Linked DNA regions of Homo sapiens. The protein of the gene in region 2 purifies or fractionates together with the protein of the main gene of each other region. This does not show direct contact. Each region holds a gene or a part of one and is shown on either strand. Other genes may lie near its edges.

The links.
Region 1: the proteins of MFGE8 (region 2) and MYOM2 purify together in Homo sapiens (co-immunoprecipitation; one large-scale study listed by IntAct). This does not show direct contact.

The regions. Positions count from the first base shown.
Region 1 is NC_000008.11:2,093,411-2,097,064, forward strand, and holds part of MYOM2 (myomesin-2), read left to right. Parts: intron 1-559; coding exon 560-681; intron 682-2,836; coding exon 2,837-3,024; intron 3,025-3,654. UniProt on the Homo sapiens protein: Major component of the vertebrate myofibrillar M band. Binds myosin, titin, and light meromyosin. This binding is dose dependent.
Region 2 is NC_000015.10:88,900,749-88,903,500, forward strand, and holds part of MFGE8 (lactadherin isoform a preproprotein), read right to left. Parts: exon of another isoform or gene 1,435-2,752; intron 988-1,434; coding exon 803-987; intron 11-802; exon of another isoform or gene 1-10.

The DNA of each region.
Region 1 (3,654 bases), on a different chromosome or scaffold from region 2:
GTGCTAAGTTGTCCACCTAGAGTTTTCCATGTAGTGCCTGCAATAGTGCTGTGGGGTGGGAATTATCATCCCCATCTTACAAATAGAAAAACAAAGTCTTACAGGGGTTAAGGAGGTTGATTAAGACCATAAAATCTGTGAGGTTTCAAAGCCCCAGTATTCGAGCCTAGTCCATCTGACTTCCAAGTCTTGGCCTGTAACCACTGCAGTGTAATTACTGCTAATTAAGTTTTACATACACGGGTTCTTTTAGATAAGAAATGGCATACTGTTGGATAATAGACCTCTGATCCAGAGGAGGCCCAGAAAGTACAAAAGCAAAGGTGAACTCACAGAACAAGTGGCTTTGGCACCACGTGTAGTCAGCTCCTGCTATAATTAGGTGCTGTGACCTTACTGTCGGACTCTACATGTTGAGCTAATTAACTAGAATTGAAAATGAAGGATGTATGTTATCCATAAAAATTTTTTATGGCGCGTTCAGGGTGATTTTTGCTTCTGCTGCAGGAGAGAAAAAGTGGAGCCTGGCAGTTCTGACCCTGATCCCTGTGTTTCTCAGGTTCGTGGTGCACGGCTTAACCACGGGAGAGCAGTACATCTTCCGAGTCAAGGCGGTCAATGCTGTGGGGATGAGTGAAAATTCCCAGGAATCAGACGTCATAAAAGTGCAGGCCGCACTCAGTAAGTCACTCACAGGCTGTTGTGTGCCGATTGCTCCCATACACTGTCATTTCTGCATGAATAAACATTTGTGATGCCATTTGGAATGTCATTGAAGGGGAAAAGGGGACTAAATTCCTGAACAGAGAACTTGAGTTTCTTTGAAGCCTCTCGGTTGGCTGCTTGTCTTGGAAATGACAGTGTGAGAGGGAGAAATGATAATACACTAATAAAACGCAAATTAAAAATAGAAAACATTGTTGTTGCCAAATACCTGTACTCATGTTAAAATATATGCTGTAGGCTGGCGCAATGGCTCATGCCTGTAATCGCAGCACTTTTGGAGGCCAAGGTGGCTGGATCATGAGGTCAAGAGATTGAGACCATCCTGGCCAACAAGGTGAAACCCCGTCTCTACTGAAAATACAAAAATCAGCCTGGCATGGTGGCGGGCGCCTGTAGTCCCAGCTACTCGATAGGCTGAGGCAGGAGAGTCACCTAATCTGGGAGGCGGAGTTTGCAGTGAGCCAAGATCGTGCCACTGTACTCCAGCCTGGGGGGACAGAGCAAGACTCCGTCTCAAAAATATATATATGCTGTAGGGGATACATTTCTCTTTTCAAAATATGTGCTAAAATACAGCAACATCCATGACCTTTTTAGCTGTTCTCAGTTCTAGGAACTTTAGTCACTTCAGAGAATGTCATATTTATGTAACTTTGAGACTTTGTTGGTAAATAGTGGTGTTTAACAGTTTTTATTATTTTGATCAAACGAGACAATTGGGATCCTAAATCTCAGGGACCGTCCCTAGAACAGTTGCTGTATCAAGCTGTGCTGCAGCCTCGTGGCTTTCTGTTTTCTCATGAAATGCACCTCAGGAAGTCAGTGCGCATACTCAGAAACATTTTGAAACACAAATGCCACATGGGACACCCTTGGATTCACAGGGTTATCTTCCCACTTCAGAGGGAACTATGTGGCTCGTTGATGATTTTTCATCTTTGACTAAATTTGCAACATTTTCAGAAATTAAAATTTATCTTCTAATGATATTGCTGTTGGATTTCCAAGGAATGTCAAATCTGATAACATCTAGCTAGGTACAATAGCGCTGACTCTTTTGTTTTAAGATTAATCTCCTCTCAATTTTTTCCAGGAGGGACTTTCAAACATTCCCATTTTCTTTTTAATGTCATTCCTACTAAAGGAAAACCACTTTCTTTTTTTTTTTTTTTCGACGTAGAGTCTCGCTCTGTTGCTCAGGCTGGGGTGCAGTCGTGTGATCACAGCTCCCTGCAGCCTTGAGCTTTTGGGCTCAAGTGATCCTCATGCCTCAGCCTCCTGATTAGCTAGGACCACAGGCACCACCACCACGCCCAGCTAATTTTTTGATTTTTTTGTAGAGATGGGGTTTTACTATGTTGCCCAGGCTGATCTCAAACTCAGGAGCTTAAGCAATCCTCCTGCCTCGGTCTCCCAAAGTGCTGGGACTACAGGCATGAGCCACCGCACCTGGCCTGTTTTTATTCTATGATAAGAATCACTTAATTCCAGTCACCTGTGTCTCAGGTAACAGAGGATGGCCACATTGAGGTGACTCAGAGCTGGGGCAAGCAGACTCAGGCCCATCCGTTCTCGACCTGTTAGGAGAAGGCGGTCCGTTTCAAATGCCCTGCTCAAACAGGGAAACACGGATTCACACTCATTTGAAGGAACCTGAAGTTCCTCTAACTGTGCAGGAAATTAAAACAAACTGGAATCGTATCTGTCATCTCTGGCCACAGATGCAGAATAGTTATTCCTTATGGTTGTAAAAGTGAAAGCTCCTTCGCCAAGCTTCTTTCAAGGGGCCGAGAAGACAGAACATCTTCTGCTGTGTCAAATGTTCATACCAGATTTAAACCGTTCATCCTATGGAAGCCTTAGTAGATACACTTAGAAATAGCAATACATATATATGAGATAAATTTTTATTTATTTTTGTACTCATCCCCTTTAAAAAGGTGTAAAGACCAAGGTGGTTAAGTGTGGGTTGAGAGGGATCAGAGGGCACAGTGTTCAGGCCCGTCTCCACGTTGCTTCCTCCTCCCTCTGCCACACTGGAGCTGGCTGCCCCGGGGACAAAGCCCCCAGCTGAGGCCCTCGGTAACTCCCTGGTTGTGCTTCCTTGCAGCCGTCCCGTCCCATCCTTATGGGATTACGCTCCTCAACTGTGACGGCCACTCCATGACCCTCGGCTGGAAGGTCCCGAAATTCAGTGGTGGCTCGCCCATCCTGGGCTACTACCTGGACAAGCGTGAAGTTCACCATAAAAACTGGCACGAGGTCAATTCCTCACCCAGCAAACCGACAATCCTAACGGTCAGTTGGTTTTTATTCCTTCGTCTATTTTTGCCTGGGTGGTTCTTTACATTTTTGGCAATGTTTCTGCGTTTGATGACATTAGATAGTTTGATACAGACACAAAAATGGATTAAAAAATAGCATCATGAGATCATGAAGTTTTGGAGCTAAAAAGATCCTAGGAATCATATTCTTTTTCTTTCTGAGAAGCAGTGAAGAAGGGAGCTCAGTGATGGAGTGGGCCTGACAGTGAGTCCATGACCTCTGGTGTGACCAGCATCTGGTCCCAGTACCTGTGGTAATGTCCCTTGTTCTAGGCTCTGAGGCCTTGAGGGCAGGGACGGAGTCTCACATGTGTGCCTGAGGGGAGGGTCACGCTGAATGTCTGTTTAGGAAGAGAGTAATGTTGGCTCTCTGCTTGTCACCCACCATTTCCCTGAGACATTCTTGTATTTCAGGCCTCCCAGAGAGTCCCTTGCCTCAGTGCCCCTGGTGCTCAGGTGCAGAGTGTGGCAAGGACATCGACTTGGAGCTCAGAGATCTGGGGTCAGATCCAGACACCCCCTTGGCAGCCATTGCTCTGTTTCCCTGTCCGGCCCTTGACCCCTCATCTGAGCATAGATGAATGACCCTCATCTCACACTACAG
Region 2 (2,752 bases):
CTTTTGTTTCCTAGTTTCAATGACAGACAAGGGCTGTCACATGGTGGCTTCTTAGACACTGAGTCAGAGAATATGTATGCTGTGCTCAAGGGAGAGGTCCCAAGATGCCTGGGTCATGTCTCCCTCTTCCGCCTCCGCCCTGCTGTCTGTCCATAGGCTGAGCCTTGTCAATCCTGTGGCAGCCCATGGAATGGCTCTCCCCTTGTGTACACACATACACACACATTCACACACACACATTCACACACACACATTCACACACACACACACATTCTCACACACACATATTCACACACATTCACACATACACATTCACATACACATTCACATACACATTCACACACATTCACAAATACACATTCACACATACACATTCACACACACACATTCACACACACATTCTCACACACACATTCACACACATTCTCACACATTCACACACACATTCACACATTCACACACACACATTCACACATACACATTCACACACACATTCACACGCACGCATTCACACGCACGCATTCACACACACTCACATTCACACACATTCACACACTCACACACACACATTCACACACACACACACATACACACACACACCCTTTCTCCACCTTGGTGGAAGCAGGATCAAGAGAAGGGAGTACAGGTGGGAAGAAGAAAGAAAAGCCGAAGAAAAACAAGGCTTTTCCAGAACTCTTTTGGGGAGCAGAAGAGAAGCCTGGGCTGGAGAGAGGTCAAAGATCTGGCAGTCCCACCTCATCCCACCCAACCCCAGCCCCATATCCCAAGAAGGCTGACCCACCTGCAGCCACTGATCGTTACCGTAGCTCCCCGCAACCCAGGCGTTGAAGTTGCCCTGCTTGTCCAGCCGTGCATAGGAGGGGTTCCAGCTGAAGAGATGCAAGCCCCAGGTCTTGTAGCTGCTGGAGGCCGTGATCTGCTTGTCAGGGATGCTGTTATTCTTCAGGCCCAGGGGATTGGCGCATCCTGCCAGCAAGGTGGGCTGTCATCTGGATCTGGGATCCACAGCTCCCAGGGGCAGGAGCACAAGGCGATGAAGCAGAAAGAACTCTGTGGATCCTGACCAGCCCCTGTCATGCTCTTGGGCAACAGAAAGCAGCTCCATCCGCCTTGCAGGGCCAACTGTGCGACCTTCTCACTGCCGACCCCACCACCTCCTCACCTCAACCAGCCGGGCTCAGCTCCTCACAGATCACCCAAGACCTCCCACTCACCACCCTTCTCCTCTGCACCAGGGAAGGCCCCTGCTCCACCACCTCCTGCCCTCCTTCAATGCCTGACTTTGGAGACACCTCCTCCAAGAAGTCTGCCCTGACTACTTCACTTGGGCAGGATTTCTTCCTCTTCTGGACTCACAGCACTGCCCCCATCGCCTCGGCCTCCCATCCGTCCCATGGCACAGTCACTATCTACTTTAATAACAACCACATTGTTTATTCAGTGCTTACTTCAGTCATTTAACCTGCCACCAAAAAAAAAAAGAAAAAAAAACACTAAATGAAGTAGAAATTAGTAAGCCCATTCTATAGATGAGAAAACTGAAAGACATTAAGCATCATGCTCAAGTCACATACAAACTCCTAATGTCACACTATGACGTCACCTCTACCAGCTACACATCCCAGCTAGATGATGAAGGCCTGCCTAGTGACGACCCAGTGATGAACAGGACAACATCCCTGCCCTCCAGCAGCTGGCAGTTAGAGAAATCAGACAACTCCTGGGGCACAGGAACATCTCTATTTCCATTCCCCAGAAGCCCCCTGACTTAGTGTCTCCCAGAGGGCCTTCGCACACTCAAATGTTCTGGGGATGCTGTCACACAGGCCTGTGAGGGCTGGCCCGGGAAGCTGGCCTTTGTTTCACTCAGCCCTGCCCCAAACACTCAGGAATGTGCCGGGCTGCCTTGCACTTGTATCTGCACCTGCATATGGATAGAACAGTTGGGGATGGGCAAGAGATACAACTCCCAAGAGAATGATGGGGGTGTCTCCCACCTGGAAGAATCCTCACTCCACAAGTGTCTATCCCTCTGGGGAATTGAGGGAGGCAGGAGTGGACGGTGGGACTGGAGAGCCCCCTGCCCTCTGGGAGCCAGCTAAGTTATATCACTGCCCTCCAATACTCTCACCACTCAAGAGTACTGGGAGCCAGCTAAGTTATATCACTGCCCACCTGTACTCTCACCACTCAAGACATTTGCCTCCAGGGTGTGTTGACAATGCCTGCTGATGGTACCATCATCTCCTGATGGTGATGCACCAGGGAACCACCACCTTCCCCCTCAAAGAGAGGCTCCCGGGCTGAGAGCTGGTTGTCCCTTGGCCCCAGAAGAGGAGAGGCCTGAGGCAGGCTAAAACCTGGGCAGCTTTGCAGAGGACACCAATTCTGCACAATGTGCTCAACGCAGACCCCTCTACAGATCATCTGCTTCTAGTGGTTCATACCCTCCTCACTCTCAGCCTCCCCAGGAAGTCAGACAGCCTTTCTGGTAAAATGCAGTTGGAAGGGGCACCAGGGCAGGGACAGGACTGTCAGCTCCAGCACTCTAGGAAGTCCCTTCCTCTCTCTGGCTCTCAGTCTCCCCATCTATAAAATGAGATACTAGGGGAGTAATTCTCACAGATCACCTGGGGATCTTGATATAAAAAAAAAAAGCTTATGTTTCAGCAAGTCTAGGCTGGGGCTTTCAGTCTGTATTTCTTTTTTTTTGTTTTTTTGTTTGTTTGTT